Linked DNA regions of Homo sapiens: all the other regions are reported to be linked to region 4. The links are microRNA targets in miRTarBase. Many come from high-throughput screens and were not tested one by one. Region 4 holds a microRNA gene; each other region holds the end of a gene's coding sequence.

Evidence for each region. Region 4 holds the annotated microRNA hsa-miR-3175 (CGGGGAGAGAACGCAGUGACGU, at 2,535-2,556, opposite strand). A microRNA usually pairs through its seed, bases 2 to 8, with sites in the 3' UTR of a target mRNA and lowers its output. Matches are read on the target gene's strand: a 7mer-m8 pairs with bases 2 to 8, a 7mer-A1 pairs with bases 2 to 7 and ends in A, and an 8mer does both.
Region 1: the mRNA of FOXC1 is a reported target of hsa-miR-3175. Seed matches in the 3' UTR shown: 7mer-m8 at 2,932-2,938 and 7mer-m8 at 2,040-2,046.
Region 2: the mRNA of CSTF2 is a reported target of hsa-miR-3175. The part of its 3' UTR that is shown has no 7-base or 8-base seed match.
Region 3: the mRNA of NPLOC4 is a reported target of hsa-miR-3175. Seed matches in the 3' UTR shown: 7mer-A1 at 2,761-2,767.

What each region holds. Positions count from the first base shown.
Region 1 is chr6:1,611,153-1,615,406 of GRCh38, reverse strand. It overlaps FOXC1 (forkhead box C1), which reads right to left. Exons shown (of 1, transcript NM_001453.3): 1 at 1,510-4,254. The coding sequence ends at 3,300. Among named protein-coding and RNA genes, the nearest start is that of FOXC1, 3.4 kb to the right of the region's middle. RefSeq lists enhancers at 546-1,162, 1,163-1,780.
Region 2 is chrX:100,837,457-100,841,694 of GRCh38, forward strand. CSTF2 (cleavage stimulation factor subunit 2) reads left to right here. Exons shown (of 14, transcript NM_001325.3): 13 at 783-908; 14 at 3,258-4,064. The coding sequence ends at 905. Among named protein-coding and RNA genes, the nearest start is that of CSTF2, 19 kb to the left of the region's middle.
Region 3 is chr17:81,555,532-81,559,785 of GRCh38, forward strand. NPLOC4 (NPL4 homolog, ubiquitin recognition factor) reads right to left here. Exons shown (of 17, transcript NM_017921.4): 17 at 1,356-3,885. The coding sequence ends at 3,728. It overlaps LOC124904085 (a long non-coding RNA gene), which reads left to right. Exons shown (of 2, transcript XR_007065947.1): 2 at 1-1,788. Among named protein-coding and RNA genes, the nearest start is that of FAAP100, 5.3 kb to the left of the region's middle. RefSeq lists enhancers at 3,180-3,681, 3,682-4,181.
Region 4 is chr15:92,902,710-92,906,963 of GRCh38, reverse strand. It overlaps MIR3175 (microRNA 3175), which reads right to left and starts at 2,565; the gene lies at 2,489-2,565. The region is part of intron 2 of CHD2 (chromodomain helicase DNA binding protein 2); the gene reads right to left. RefSeq lists enhancers at 2,272-2,511, 2,792-2,971, 1,833-3,032 and a silencer at 2,672-2,721.

The sequences.
Region 1 (4,254 bases), not on the chromosome of region 4:
TGGGAACGGTGCAGAAAAGCCCGCCGAGCTTTCCACTGCCGACCTGGGCCTAGGCCGGGGCTGACTGCGGCCGCCACCTCCTCCGGGCCGCAAAGCCGAGACCCAAGGAGAGTGGAGAGTCGCAGGCACGTGGGCTCGGAACACGCTGAGCCTGCAGCTCGCCCGAGGGCTTCTGGCATCCTTGAGGCCGAGCGACTCCCCGCACGGCCACTGCCAAGCGACTGGTGGCCTCTGCAAACCTCACACACCGCGCGAGGACGCAGCCCTGCCGGGGAGGCCGCCTGGGGCCGCAGCGCCGGCCCGGGCAGGTCTGGTGCGGCCAGGCCGAGGCGGGTGGGCCGGGGGTGGCCCTGCAAACGCGCAGCTCCGGGTCCCGCGCCTGGAGGCTGCGGGCCGGCGCGGGGCGAGCTGTCACCCGTGAGCAATGAAGTGCCTCTGACCTTTCCACCCCAGCTGCGCTCCTAAACACACGTGCGTCTTCACAACAAAGGAGGCCAGCGAGGAGGAAGTGAGAGCTCGGCGGGGCCCTGCGGCGCCAGGCGGAGACGCGGGGTGACCGGGCGAGGGAGCGGGCTCCTCCGAGCTTCTCGGCCGGAGCCCCGAGGGCGCTTCTCCCGGCTCGGCGCCCCCCGCCCCGTCCCCGTCCCCGGCACCGCGCGCCTGCCACCCTCCCTCAGCGCGCGCTTCCCGGCACCCCGACCCAGCCCGCGAGGAACCCAGCGAAACTAACAGGGGTCTCCCTTTGACTCGCTTTTCTCCAACGACTAATTTCAGGAGGAGGCCGCGGAGGCCGGGGCTAATCTGGGGAGGGGGGTGTGGGGAGGAAGGAGCTCCAAACGCAAACCGAAGCCGGGCCCCGCGCCGCCGCGGGTAATTACAGCTCATTAGCTGGAGAGCGTTGCCGTCGCGAGCGGCGTCCAGGAGGCCGGCGTCGGGGCGGGCGCGACTCGGAAGGGACCGGGCCTGCGAGAAACGCCCCAGCCGGAAAGCCAGGCGTGGGCCGCGCGGGTCTCCACCCGCCACCCCCTACTCCACAGAGTCCGACCGGACACGTCGAGAACGGTACCGTCTCCGGCGGCCGAGCTGCTCCGCCTCGGGCTGGGCCAGCCCGCCCGTGGGGACAGGGCCGTGAGTCACCTGCTGCAGCTCCCCTTCCGGGCCTCGACACCCCAGCTCCGGCCGCGGGCCCTTTGTCCGCAAATCCCAGCTCCTCGCCGGGCTCCCCAAAGTGGAGCGATCACACCAAACTCCTGGAGACTGGCGGTGGAGTCTCTACCGTCACCCCCTCCCCTTCCCCCGCCCCGAAAGAGGCTGTAACCCGAGGAAGCTGGAGGCAGCCCCGGGACCTAGCGCCGCGACAGCCCAGCGAGATTTAAACGGGGCCGTGAGGCCACCCCCAGCCCGCCTGCCCCGAGGAGACACCCGCGCCAGCGCCGCTGCGATCTTCCCGGCGATTAGGTTACGACCCTGGGGGAGGGGACCGAGCGAATCACAGGCCACGTAGAGCAGTTTTTGACTGAAATTAAAGTGTATTTATTTGCAGCAATCCTTTAACAATGATCAAATTTTGACAACAAGCAACAGCAATTACTGCTTAAGTGTTGCCTCTAGATAGGAGCGGCAGATAGCAGGAAACTGTATTATCTCCAAAACAAACTGCAAGCCCCCCACCCCCCCGAACGTCTGTAATCAAATCGCCATCTCCCCAAAGTCTGATTGGCAGGGCAGATCACCCTAAGATAATGAATTTATTACATTTCCTGGGTTATTTACAAAAGGGGGAGGGCCAATCCGGATTGTCCCCTAGGTTTAACTGTAAATTAACAAGAAAAAATGGTTTAAAAAGAAACCACCCTAGACCAAAATGTTCTGCTCCTCTCGCCTTCCTTCTTGTTATTGCTTTAAATCTTTTTCAAAAATAATTGTTCTACAAACATATTTTCTAAAATAGTTTCTCAAAGATTAAATATCCCTTTCCAACCCGCAGTATATTTTTAAAAAAGCAATCCTTCTATGTAATACATGAAGGATTGTAAATGGGGGAGAATTATATACATACATTTAAAAACTGGTTTATTTTTCCTTTTATAAAGGACTGAAATAATAGGAAAATATCTATTCAGCATCTGGCTCACAGGGATGTATAATATGCACTGCAATTTTATATGGAATACACAAGCCAAATATTTATCTGTGCATATCTGGCCGCACAGTCCCATCTCTCGGCACACAGGCATCACCGTGGTAAGACCGCGGCTGATTCATGGGCTTAAAATTTCCGAATCATGGACTGTCATTAGTGAGAAAACGTATTTGTTTATATGCCAACTCCAATCTGTTTAGAAAAATATCTTTTTACTAGCCTCAAAGCAAGCTGACTATATAGTACATTTTGCAGAAGATGCTGCAGGAAAATAAATCTAAACAAAAAGACTTTTAGTAAAATTTGACATGGACTAGTCAGAGGGTTTCTCCATTTTTCAGAGATTTAGGTGGAGAATAGGTAACTTCTAGTGTTTTATCTCTGAAATCTTTTTTCGTAATAATTAAAGCTCTATTAAAGTATCCAGACATATAGGTCTCATTCAAACTGAATGGTAATTTATTAATAAACAAACAATGAATATGTTCAACAAAAAGAAAGAAAAGAGGATAGAATAAGATTAATACAGTTTCCCTTTTTATAATGAGAAAAAAAGCACAATTTAAAGTTTCAGGCAATTTAACGTCAGGTTTTGGGAACACTTTCTGGCGTTTGGTCCACGACATCCAACTACAAATTAAAAATAAATTACTATGTTGCAATTTACATTTTAAAACAAGTCCATGAATAAAAAGAAAGCGACTTTCATAAACGGGGACTTTCCCCCTCCCTTCAACATAGGATAAAATAATATCTTACAGGTGAGAGGCAAGGAAGAAGGCAAGAGAGGGGAGACGGGAGGAGGGGAAAGCAGGTCTCTGAAAAGCAAGAAGAAACTTACGTGTTATCTGGAGTAACACTGTCCTTTAATAAACCAAGATTTTGCTGTCTCTGTATAAAACAGTTTACGGGTTTGTTTATTTAGACAAGGCAAAGTGGAGGTGGCTCTGAATTAATCGGTTAAGAAAATAGAGTTTTCTTCGTGCTGGTGCTGGTGAGCTGAATTTTTGGAGGGATATTCTGTTCGCTGGTGTGGTGAATATTCTCAGGGGTTTTTTTTAATTGGATTTTTTTTTTTTAGTTTCGATTTTGCCTTGATGGGTTCCTTTAGCTTTTCCTGCTTTGGGGTTCGATTTAGTTCGGCTTTGAGGGTGTGTCAAAACTTGCTACAGTCGTAGACGAAAGCTCCGGACGTGCGGTACAGAGACTGGCTGGAAGGGAAGGCCATTTGACAGCTACTATTCCCGTTCACTGGAGAGTTGTTCAAGCCGATCCTCTGTGACTCGAACATCTCCCGCACCGAGTGGAAGTTCTGCTGCTGGCCCGGGTAGCCTGCGGCCGCCGCCGCCGCCGCCGCGCTCGCCAAGTGGCCCAGGTCTCCGCCCGCCTGGTTCAGGTACCACGAGGTGAGGCGGCCTTGGTGGGCCGCAGGGTGGTGGCCGGCCTCCTGGCCTCCCCCGCCGCCGCCGCCGCCGCCGCCGTGACTCAGGGACGACGAGCTGCTGCTGGTGACCGGAGGCAGAGAGTAGTCGGGCAGGGGGTCGTCCACGGCCGAGCCGCCCGCGCCCCCGGGCGCGCCCTGCAAGTGGCCCCCGCGCTCGCCGGCCGCGTACAGGCTCATGGCTTGCAGGTTGCAGTGGTAGGTCCCGGCGCCGCCCGCGCCCCCCGCGGCCCCCGCGCCGCCGCCGCCGCCGCCCGAGCTGCCCGCGCTGGAGGTCTGGCTGCAGGGGGAGCTGTAGAGGGAGCTCTGGCCGGGCGAGTAGGCGCCGAGCGCCAGCGGGGGTGCGATCCCCGCGCGCGAGGACGCGGCCGCCGAGGCCAGAAGGCCGGAGCTGAGCTCCGCGGCCGCGCTCTGCGGCGACCCCCGCAGCGACGTCATGATGTTGTCCACGCTGAAGCCCTGGCTATGGTGCGGCGGCGGGGCGGAGGGCGCGGGCGGCGGCGGCGCGGAATCCGCACCGTCCAGGCTGAGCGGCCGCGCCGACGGCAGGCTGCCCGGGGGGCTGCTCCCGCTGGACAGGCTGCTGCTGCTGCTGTCGGGGCTCTCGATCTTGGGCACCGCGGCGGCGCTGCCGCTGCCCAGGGCGGCGGCCGGGGACAGGGGCTGGGGC
Region 2 (4,238 bases), not on the chromosome of region 4:
ACACTGTCTGACTGCCTCCTTATGCACAATTCTAGCCTTTTTGATTCCTCTTTTCACAGTTACCATGTGACGATCCTGGGTCTTCAAAGTCCCTTTGGAGGTGATGTTTATTCTAACTTAGAACTCTTTTATGATCTTGTTACCTGAAAATTTGTGAGTCTGGTCCTGAAGTTCCTAATGGATGTGAAGTTCTTAAGTGGATGTAAATGGCAGCTTATTTTATATTTCACACTCATCTGCCAATAGCAGGTTTTTCTTGTTCAGGCCAGATTGACCTGAAAATCCACACCCTTTTTCCTTCCCTTTCTACTTTATCCCTAAAAACAATAGTAGATTCCCCATGATTATATCTTTCTGTTTTTATATTTGACCATTGTGGGGAGCTTATGTCTGATGGAAAGGCTAAAATTTGTGAAAAAGAGAGACTTTCAAAACAGGATTAAAACTTGAAGGATTTCCAGGGCTCACAGATACCATCTTAGTCTCCAGGAACTTTGAGTTCATGAAGTTGTCTGTTTTGAATCGTCTAATCTTAGGTATTTTAATTTATACTTGTTCTTTTCATTGTACCTTTTCTCACCAGTTTTTTTTTATTTTTTATTTTTTTTGGAGGGGGGCTGTTGGTTTTTTTCTGTGTGAAATGTTCTTCCTTTTTCCATTTTGCTTCATATCCCACTACAGTAGCTTTTTGGACAGAAGCTGGTGGTGGGTTTTTTGTTTTGTTTTGTATTTTTTAGCTGCCATCATTAAAACTCACTACCTTTTTTTTTTCCTCTGCACAGGCTGCTTTGATTATGCAGGTTCTACAACTGACTGCAGACCAGATTGCCATGTTGCCTCCTGAGCAAAGGCAGAGTATCCTGATTTTAAAGGAACAAATACAGAAATCCACTGGAGCACCTTGATAGGTGAGCAAACTTAATCCCCATCTGAGTAGGACTAGCTCCTTGTCTATTCTGGGTATATACTTTTAACCTTAACCAACAAGATTGTTCTCTCAGCGGCCCTCAATCCACTCAGCTAGACTCTTCTTTACCCTTCAGTAGGTCAGCTCCTGTAGGGATAGAGTAAGGCTATACAATGTTTGTTCAGTTGTTGAATTGCTTATAATCTTTCCTAATGACAAAGGTAATGTATGATCAGTTTAACAAAAGTAATCATATACAGAAATGTAGAAGGTGAAAGGTAAAAAGCCCTGTTTCCTCAATCTCATTCCCCAGACAAAACCTCTAAATATAGTTTGGTGTGTATCCTTCTACAATCAATTGTATTATTTTATTCCAAACTGTCCTGTCAAAATGGAAAAATACAAAGCATTTCAATAAAATGTGTAAATATTTTGTTTCTTGTATTTATTTTATAGGGAATATTTTGATGTTGAACTATAGTAGCACATAATTTAAGGTAGTAAATGTCCGTCATCACCATCAGTTTCTATATATTTTGGAGATCGCTGTACCCTGCTACCCTTATTTTTCTTGCTCATCATTTAGGCAGAAAGAATCCAGGGGCCAAGCACAGTGGCTGAGCCCTGTAATCTCAGCTTTGGCAGGCTGAGGTGGAAGGATTACTTGAGACCAGGAGTTCAAGACCAGCCTAAGCAACATAGTGAGACCCCATCTTTACAAAAATTTTTTAAAAAATTAGCCAGGCATGGTGAGATGCGCCTATAGTTCCAGCTACTTGTGAGGCCGAGGTGGGAGGACTGGTTGAGTCCAGGAGGTCAGGGCTGCAGTAAGCCATGATTATGCCACTGCACTCTAGCCTGGGTCACAGAGTGAGACTCTGTGTCAAAAAAAAAAAAAAAAAAGGATCCAGGTAACCTGCTTCATAAATAATCATGTGACAACTTGATTACACATACATGTATCAGTGTTTCTTTTTTAAAAAAAATTTCCCCAGCATTTTGTATTTTATAAACAGTTCTTTTTTCTAAAAACAGTTTAAAATTCATGTTGCCCCACTATCAGGTAGGACAGCACAATTTAAATTTCTACTTTTTACCCCATCCATATTATAATTCCTATTCTTATGTTATATAATAGTGAACTCATTTAACTATTAATAATTACCACTCTTACAAAATATATCATTTTAATCCATACTTGTGATGTCTTTAAACATTTAAACTGCGACTATGCATCATATATGTATTTAGACCTTAAATGAATTAATGAGAAGCTATCATAGATAGAAGGCTCAGTAGACTTTTGGTACCTTAACGTTTTATTCCACAAACCCCACATATTCTTTTTTTTTAGTAAAAGTATAGACTACCTATTACATTCAGAGGAATAAATAAAAATTATTTCTTTTACTAATTTACTTAAGCCAGAGAAGGCATTCCCTACAATGTGAGAAAATTACTCCTTACTGTTTCTGGATAGTAGAGGTAGAAATGTTTCTGAAATTTCTTTCATTATAGTTTTGCTTATAGGATGTTTAATTTAAGGCCTTGCATATTAACCACAAGGCAAAGTTTTTGTCTATTTTTTTACCTTTTATTTTTAAATAATCATAGACTCAAGGAAAGTTGGAAAAATAGTACAAGGAGTCTCATGTACCCTTCACCCAGTGTAGTGCAAAACCAAGAAATTGACATTGGCACATTACTGTTAACTTGACTGCAAACTCAGTTTTCACCATTTTAAAAAAACTATCATGATTTGTGTATATGTATGTGTGGTTCTATGCAATTTTATGTGGGCAAGATTTTATTGTGTGTCTACTGGTGTTTGTGCATACCATGGCTAAAGTGTTGGGTTTTCCTCCATCCTATACCTAGCTAGTTGTGATCCATCTCTGCCATCATGGACAGGCTTCTATACTGTTGTCATTAGAGATGAATGGTTCTCAAACAAGGGCAGTTTTGCCCCCTAGGTGACATTGTCTTGAGACGTTTTTGGTCATCACAACTTTAGGGAGTATGGCATGCTACTGGCATTCAGTGGGTAGAGGCCAGAGATACTGCTAAACATCCCATAATGCACAGGATGGTCCCCCTCACCCACTTCCCAATAGCAACTAGTACTCCAGCCCAAAATGTCAGTAGTGCTGAGGTTGAGAAACCCTGCTGCAAGGGCTGATTGCTTTGAGGAGTCAGGAGGCAGGAGACAGATACTTTGCAAATCTGTCCTGGTGATTTGATTATATGCCTGTCCTCCCTCCCCTAGCCTTTTTATTTTTTTTCCTGAAGTTTTTCCGGAAGAGAGCTTTGTCTTCACTTCTAATGGCTTTGTCCTAACTTCTTCTTACAGGTTTTCAAAAATACCTGGCAAGAAATCTGGAAATTCTATAATTTTGTTGAAATATTGAAAAAAGATGACCTGCATCCTAACCCTTGAATGACTCAAATCAGTGCCAGGTGGAGGACTCCCATCACCTTCTCTCAGAACAAAATCACTTCATTTTATTGTCTTAGTTTGTATATTTTCTGTGACTTGAAATAAACTTTGAACACAATTTTAGTACACTGCAAATTGATACACATGACCTTTTTGCTTTTAAAAAGCTTAACACTAAGGGTGAAACCTTAGATGTGTTTTCTACCCTTACTGCAGTATTGTACTTTAACATATTGCCATAGTTTTGTTTTTAAGTTAACCACTTATTCTTCTTGATGATATTTGAGAATTTCTCAGAAGCAATGTTTTCTGGAACTTGGTTTTTGTTTAGTTTGCTTCCAGTAAGAATTATTATAAGGCTTTGCCCTCTGAAAATATTCTAGCACTTCGGAGTCTTCTAGGAGAAAATATCACATGCTTAGAGCTATAAAATGGTCAGAAGGCTAACAGAGCAAAGAGCCTAGCACAGCTGTGTGTTTAGTTTAGAAAAATCCAAATATCAAAATGCATTTGTTTCAATAGCAGGTCTGAACATGTATAATTCAGAGTTAAGACAAAAATTGTTTTAGCACTGGTTTGAGTGTGTCAGCAACACAAGAGACTGTTGACATTTACTTGTGTGTTCTTAAACTTATCAGTCTAGGCAGTCAACTTTGAAAGTTTAAAAAGCCACTGATTTTTCACATGCTCAAGATGAAATAAAAACAGAAATCAAATGAACAAAATACATTTCATCCTATCTTCCAGGCAGTCCCTAACCTGCAGCCCTACCCTGTAACTACGTTTATTCTGGGAACTTACAACACAGAAAACCCTAAAACTTGTACATTCTTCTCATTTTAAGTGGACCAAATGTAGAGCACAGTCAGATTGCTCATTAGGTCTGCTCCTGCC
Region 3 (4,254 bases), not on the chromosome of region 4:
CTTGAATTCCTGACCTCAAGTGATCCACCAGCCTTGGCCTCCCCAAAGTGGTGGGATTGTAGGTGTGAGCTGCCACACCCAGTTTTTTTGTTTTTTTTGTTTGAGACAGTCTTGCTCTGTTGCCCAGGCTGGAGTGTGCAGTGGCACAGTCTCAGCTCACTGCAACCTCTGCCCCCGGGGTTCAAGTGATCCTCCAGCCTGGGCCTCCCAAGTAGCTGAGATTACAAGTGTGCACCACCAGGCCCATCTAGTTTTTGTATTTTTAGTAGAGACAGGGTTTCACCGGGTTGGCCAGAACTTCTGACCTCAGGTGATCCACCTGCCTCGGCCTCCCAGAGTGCTGGGATTACAGGTGTGAGCCACTGCGCCCGGCTTTTATCTTTACATCGAACCAAAGAGGATGCCAAGGATCTTCACTGGCTCTCACATAAGACGGCCATGATCAGGTACTGGCTCACTGCATGGCCCAGGCTGCTGCTTTCTCTGATACAACCTCCCCGAGCCTCCTCACCTCAGCTTTTTAAATTTTTTTTCAGACAGGGTCTCACCCCGTGGCCCAGGCTGGACTTGCGATCACAGCTGGCTGCAGCCTCAACCTCCTGGGCTCAAGCGATCCCAGGAGCTGTGGGTAAATCGAGTGAACTGCACTGTGTTGAAGGTGCAGGATTGGAGTCCGGGTGCTGGGGGACTCACCCTCTCGCTCCTGGAGTCCAGAAGCCAGGACACCTTGGTCACTGTCCTGTGGCCTGCTTCACCCCAGGGCCCTCCTTCAGAAATTAGTTGGAGTTTTTTTTAGTAACTGCTCAAGTCAGCTATGAGTCACTGACCAAAGGACAAAGTGGTGCTGAACAGTGACTGCCAGGCTCCTATCTGAGGCTCAGAGAGCACTTGTTCTAGACGCTTTCTGTTGTCACAGGGAAAGACAGCTCAAGCAGGAACACAGGCAGTGTGTCACCCCCAGGCCTCACTCCTTGCTGCACCTGTGCAGTCTGGCCTTCCTGGGCTTTGTCCTTCACCTGCTGTTTGACCACATGTACCTGTCCACAAAGCAGTGACTGTGGGGCAGTCGCAGGGCTGACAGGTGCGGCAGAGGCAGAAGAGGCACCCAAGGGCGGCGGGGCCGTCAAACACTGACGCACTCTCCTCCTCCCCCAGATGTTAGCACTTTAAGAAACTTATCGAGGAGCCAAGGTTGGGAGGGATCGGCTGGGGAAGTGGGATCCCCACCTTTAAATGGACCATGCACATACACGTAAAACAGTGATATCTTGGAGACAAGTTATCAAATCCCCCCACACTGAGCAGATGCCAGACAACAGTTGAGTGCGCAGGAAGGACACACCAGGACCAGGCAGTTGCTTCAGGCGCTTTTATTAGGTTCCACTGCAGGGCTGGGGTCAATGTAATGCAAATCCAAGCCCAGTGATGCACACCTGTGAGCCGAAACAGAGCCGAAGCAGGAGCACCTGTGTCCCAGGAGCAGCTGGTTGGAGGGAGCCAGGGCCAGGCCCCACCTCCTCTCGGGACCAGGAGACTGGCAGCCGCTGTGTTCACCTGGGCAGGTGTGCACCCAGTCACCCCCACTGGATTATGGTGCTGGTAGCATGAGAGGGTGTGTCCACACCAAGGGCAGGTGAAGATGCGAGGTGGGGCTGAGACCTCCTTCCCACAAGAGGAGGTGGCTGAGCCTCCCAGGGCCTGAACTCTCACAGCAGGGCTCACCCCCAAGCCTGTATGCTTAGCTCTGACTCTCTTTGGACAATAAAATAAAGTGCATTACTGAACAAAGAGTAACTCAAAACCAGAATCAGACAAATCGCCAATGCTTTTCCTTTAGCTAAAAGACAAAAGAAAACATGAATGATGTGAATGCCGGAACTTCAGAGTAAGGGAAATGCTGGTGGAGGACAACGGAAACTATAATAGCGTGGTGGATAAGGACGAGCGAGTGGGAGAGGAACTGGCAACGCGGCTCTCTCTAGAAGTCCGTGCTGTCCAGCCTCTGCCCAGTGGTGGGGGAAGGCCTTGGACTCACAGGGAAGCAATGCAGGAAGCCTTGGCCACCTAGGCTCACAGCTCATCTCAGGACCAGAGGAGACAGCAGAGGACAAAACTTCAGTGTGACAGCTGCTAGGAGGGAGAGCAGACAGCCCGCGGTGGGCAAGCTGGGAGTTGCATCCGCAGCAGTCCGCTTCAACCCAGCTCCTCTCCACCCTTCCTGACCCTCCACAATAGCTCTGCCGTGACCAGACCCAACCCAACTGGCCCCTGGTCCCAAGAGCAGATGAGCTGCTTGGGCCTTCCACTTGGTGTCCCATGCCAGGCGGACCTGGAGGTGTCAGCCATGGCCCTGACCACTTCAGAAGCCAACAGGCAAATGTTCTCTGTTCATAGTGCCAAGAATGTGGGTCACGTGGGCTTACCCCCCAGGATGGACACAGAAGTCCCTAAGCAGTCTGCAGCTGGGCCAGCCTCTCCCGTGGGTGCAGAGCAGCCCAGATGTGGCCATCATTAAGGCAAAGAAGCATCGAGATGCCCACCACTCCCCGGGTAAGAGCCATGCCCCGGCCTGGCCACGCCACAGAGGAACGCAGAGCACACAAGCAGGACCCCACCACGTGCTGTTCCAGATCGCCCAGTCTCCCTCTATTGGTACACTATCAATTGTGCAGTGCCCCAGGGAGGTCCCAAATGGCCCTCACAAGAGGCACAGCCCCTAACGCCCTCAGCCAGGCGGTGCAGTGGGACGAAGCAGCGTATTGGGGAGGGCCAGAGCATCGGCACCGGTGACCCAGCTCTCCCACCCAGGCCATCGCAGGGCAGCCTCAGGGCAGGCGCCACCACTGCTCCTGCTCAGCCCGCAGTATCTGCAGTTGCTGCAGCTGTGTGGCTTGGTAGAAAAGTCTCAGGCACTGAGGTTTACTTCAAGGGAGAACTGACTGGTGCCCCCGTCCACACTCATCACCCTGGACACAACCTCGGGGGCTTCACTAAAGGAGGGAAGGATGTGGAAACTAGTCTCTCTCACTCCCCTTTTGTGCAGTTTTTATCTTAAAAAAAAATAAATAAAAGTCTTCTGGGCAGGAATTACTGATAACTGTTATTATAACCAATGCAGACTTTAAAATCCCACCTGGACATCGGGTGAGAGGAGGAGGGCAGGCAGCAAACCGACCTGCAGACCTGCAGAGGGGAGCCGTGTCCAGGGCCACTGCGTCCCCACCAGACAACAGCTACTAGAAGAGGAAAGTGGCCCTCACAGGCAGGGTGCCTGCCACCAAGCAGTCAGACAAGGGGGTAACCAAGAGCTCCCAGCCAGAAAAACATGGGGGCAGGGAGGCCAAACAAAAAGCACTGAAAATAAAGAGAAGGCTGGGTGGTGGCAGCATCGGCCCCTCCCTGTGCGCCCCAATTCCAGGTGCCACGTAGAGGCGAGAGGTCTTTCCAACACGGCGGGGGACTTGTCAACAGGATTAGGCGTGAGGAGCCGCTCTGCGTTTCCAGTCTGGAGACTGCATTCAGCCTGCAGAATACCAGCCGTGGCGCCCGCTCTCCAGGGAGGAACGTGCTGAGAAGCTTCAGTGGGTCAGGGAGCCCAGGACAGCCAGCCCCTTGTTCCTCCAGGGCTGCCCACTATGGGGCAGTTACAGGGAACACACTCAGCAACGCTTCTGGCTTCAGGAAGGGCTGGGCTGGGCCCGGTCCTAGCCAGCAGAGGGCAGGCGCCCTAGGTCCTGGGGAGGCTGCACATCTCGCAGTGGCCTGTGCCTGGCTGGTTCATGAACGTGCAGTGCTGACAGGCCCACATGGCTGCAGTGGCCGTGTGTGTGGAGCCCCCGACGGCGCCGTACTCATGGAGACCTGGGAGCTGCCCGCCAACTGTGCCTGCAGGGTGGAAGAGAAATGAGCACTCATCATTTCTGGCCCACCAGAGACTGCCAGAGTGTGGGCATGGGGGCAGGGGCAGGCAGCTGAGAGCTCCCCGCCCCCAACATCCCACCCAGTGCTGGTCCTGCCCACACAGCACTCCCACCACAGGCACACTTTGAAGTGCTTAATGCCCTCAGAAAAATGCCTCCTGCACCACAGGGAGTAACAGGGAGCCTGTGCTTGCTGGTTCCTTTTTGTTGCAGAGGGTGCTTCTCCTTGTGAATAACGTAACTCCCCGGGGGATGTGCATTTGGGTTGTTTCCAGCTTTTTTTTTTTTTTTTTTTTTCTGAGGTAGGGTCTTGCTCTGTCACCCAGGCTGGAGT
Region 4 (4,254 bases):
AACCCTAAAGTTCCAAAACAAGTTGTGAATGGCAGCTTTGCAAAGGTATACATGTGAACTCAACGCTTAGTCAAGCTGAAGTGCAGGAGGGAGTTACTCAGCTGTGACACACCCAGTGTAACCAAGCCACAAAGTTACTTTCACCTGTACACAAAATACTCTTAGAGGAATTTTTTTTTAAGTTTCTTTGTTCAAGTGACACCATATCAAGAAAGCCAAGTTCTTCAAGGAAGCAAAGTTCTAAGGTTACCAAGAAGCAGCTAAAAACTAAAGGATCTTAAAAAAAAAAAAAAAAAAAAGATGGCTCATAGCAAGAAAAAATTTAATGGCTGACACAGAGCAGTCACTCAATTTTTATACCAGAAACAAACTTAGTGTATCAAATTTTATGGGAGAAATGATAGGAGTTTGGAAATACCAGGTGGTCTCAGGAGGTCTCTCATAACTGTCAGTTGTTTTATTTGGGGGTAAGGGAGAGTAAACTAATGATAAAATCTGTGAGTTTTAGTTAAAATTCAAATAAACTTCCAGATTCACTCCTCAAGCAATAACTTGCTACAACTGTCACAACCAAAAGTCTTTATCAAAAATATTATTTGCCCACCTTCCTCTGCTGACTTAATCTTTACAAAGATACTAACTCCCTAACGGCCAAATACTAGTTGGAAAGTGCATATTTTAAACGGCAAGGATACAGAGAGAGAGAGAGAAAGAGAGAGAAATCGATCAACACTCTTTTCTTGCTGCTTGATGCTATTCCCCACATCAAAGGGAAAAAAAGTAGAAGGCTCAACAAACATACCTAAGAACACTGGTTCTATAAAAAACTTAATTGGCTGCAAGATTGTCAACAGTTAATAGGTAAATTGTTATATCATGGTATGCATTTTAACTCATAATGGTATTTAGGTTAAAATATCTTAAATAACAGAATAGTTCATATCCTCTTCAAAAATAATTAACTGCAATGTTGACTACTTTGACCCCAGTTTTAGGAATTGAAAGGTATTCAGCAAATACTATTAACACAACTAATTAGAATTCAGTCTCTACACAAAAAGGGAGGTGAGATTATTACTTTCGTTCTTGTGGCAGGTATACTTTAAGTTGGAAGCTACAGTTAAACGTTCATCAAGTTCTATAAACACTTAATTCTCTGTTAGCATTTTATACGCAATATACATTTGAGCATATAATTTTAAAATCAGGTACAAATTATTTGATGAACACTTCTCTGTAACAGAAAAAGCAATTTCAGCTAGTTTTCACAAACTATCCAAATAATTCTTCCCAAAGAACCTAGATTATGAGAACCTACAAAACTCACTATCATAGTGAATTCTAACTTTCACAGACTGTATTCAGAAACTTGACATACGCCCAAGCAAATATCACCTGCACTGAAGGGTCAACATCTCCTTTGAAGTAACACACTTTACTAAAATAACTCTAAACTATGGCTAACTACAGGACAGCCTACTCCAACTGCTAAAAAAACTCTAGTATGGCAGGAAAAAAACTTTGTCCACAGTAGATAAATCCACTGAATTTCTTGCTTGCTTAAATTCAGTATGTGTAATTTAATTATTAAGACATCGTTGCTGAACGATGAAGTTTTAACCAGAAATCCTTGTAAAGGTTTCCAAACAAGGCAAATCAGTGAGCATAAACCCAACCGTTTACCGGGACTCAGAATTCCCGAAATGGAGGCCTAGGGAAGATAATTGCGAAGATTTGGCCAAGTGACCCCACTATCAGCCAAGCTGTCAGTCACCCTGCATTAGCAAGTGCTATTAACACTTAAAAGAGTAGTTTTCTGACATTTACTTACATAGTAATGGTTGCCTAACGCTGTATTCTGCCACTTTTTAATGTTATTGAACGTGAAATTTTCTATTTTCTACTAAACTATCCCACTGTGAATCTTAAATATATAGTACTTAGCACATACTGACCTGAGTTTTTCTCCATCAAATGCCAACTGAGAAAATGTACGGTACCAAGTAAAAACGCATGGGGACAAGTTCAAATAATCTTCCCTTTGTTTATGAGCCATGTATTAAACAGCTGTTAACACCCGTCAAGAGGTTTTCACTAAAATAAAAGTATCCGCCTCTGACACTCAAACGTTTTGGTCAATTGTAACAAAATTAAACCCACTCATCTCTTCACACTGAACGGGGGCGGGGAGAAGGGACGCTAAGGTATGAAAAGGGAAAATGTAAAACTGGGCAAATTTTCTATTTTAAGATTTCCAAATAGTGCCTTTAAAATTTATAAATAGTGCCTGCACTTTTTCTCCAAAAGCAGCCGCTTCTCAAAGAGGATAAACCATTCCCGGAAATGGGCAAAAGAACACACTACAGGGTGCGGACCGCTACAGGCAAGGGCGGACAAGACTGCCAGGAGCAAACGCGTCCAGGAAAGAAGCCGCCCACCGGAAAGTCCCAACTAGAGTTCCCTTCCTTTTCCCCTCGGCGTGCGGCTCCCTGGGTAGGGGGAGGAGAAAGCGCCCGACATGCGCACGCGGCCAGACGTCACTGCGTTCTCTCCCCGCCCCCCAGGGGAGCCGTCTGACGTCACGGGGCGGAGGCTGCCGAAGGCGCCGCCGTTGACCCTGCTGTTACCAGGCGCGCGCACAGCCAATCAGCACCCCGCGCCGGCGCCGGCCGGCCTTTGAACTCGGCACGGCAACTTCCTGCTGTTTGGCGAGTACACAGTGCAATGCAGTATGTCTGTCAGCGCTGCGGCACAAAGGAACAGCCATTTTGTGACTGAGCTGGACCTGCATCAAGATGCCAGGGGCTCAAAGAGCTGCTGCGTGCCCTATCGAACTGCCTTTTATGTCGGCACCAGAGTTCCCCAGAAGAGCAGAGAGGGGGAAGGAAATAGGCTTTGGTATTTCAGATTTCTATTAGTTTAGATTCAGTCTTCTCCAAAATCCCGTTTTTTAATGTATTATCAGCGTCATAAAATGGCTGCCAGTTAAACTGCCTGTTCTAGTACACAAGTAACTGCATTATGCCATTTCTAATCATCCCCAGCCTTTTAGAATATCTGGTAAAGCGCCCCTGAAAATTGTAGGATTTACCCGCACCTCAGGTTATAAAAATAAATCTGGCTCAAAGGCAGACGATTTGGAGATAAATTTAATAAACTCGTTCAATTCTTAAGATAAATTGCTAACGTGGTGCCGTGGAGAACACACTGAACTCTTTGTGTGCACACAGTCCCGTTTTCATTCTTTGATGTTACTTAAGTTATCCCCAAGCTGCAAATTATTCAGATAAAAAGTATGGTATACTTCTCGTATGTCCATCATTAGAACTTTGTTTTAAATACTTAGAAATTTTACAAATATCAATCAAATGTTTTTAAAATCGCGTTTTTTAAAGTTTTTAATTTTCAAAAATCGTGATAAAGTATAACAGACTTTAGCATTAACTTCAAATTAAAATACAAACTTATATAACCACTATTAACTACTGCACTATTTCCAAAAACAGGGTATTACCAGATTTACCTAAACTTGCACTCATTCTTTCCAGATACTAAAGTAATTCTCAGACCAAAGTTTACTTGACCTGCAAACTCATTTCCTCTTCTGTGGCTCAGGCTGCAAAGGTGATTTTCGTAGTATTCCCTAAACACTATACTTTGGGCAATAAAAACTCTGATGGCAGAAGGAACCAAGTACTAATTACAGGGACAGTTCAGCTCAGTAGAAGTAATATTAATCTACCACATTAAAACACCACTAACATTCTACAGCTGCACATTTTAAAAGGAAGTGATGTCATAATTATGTACATGTATTAAGATATGAAATTTAGGGTAACTAATTTAAAAGTAACTATCTTCTTTTCAAAGAGTCTTAAATATTTTTGGACATCCATCAGGTATATGATTCAAAGTATACTTGACAAACCAATTTAAAAGTACAGTCAGTACATGCTTCATGTACAGCTGTAACCTCCACTACCAGTAAGCAAATGCCTGACAACTTCCAGGTAGTTTTCCAGGTGAGAGTAAAAATACTGAAAGAATACCAACACTGCTCAATTTTTTAGAATTAGAAAGCACAGTCTGATCAATGATGTTAACCACAAACCTTGCATAAGAGAGCCAAAACCCATGTGAGACCTATGCAAATGATACACTCAAGGGAGCAACAATTTTAGTGCTGAATCTTTAATAATTTGCCAAATATATCTGGAGGTTCTCATTTCTTCAAATTGTCATTACTTTCCAGAA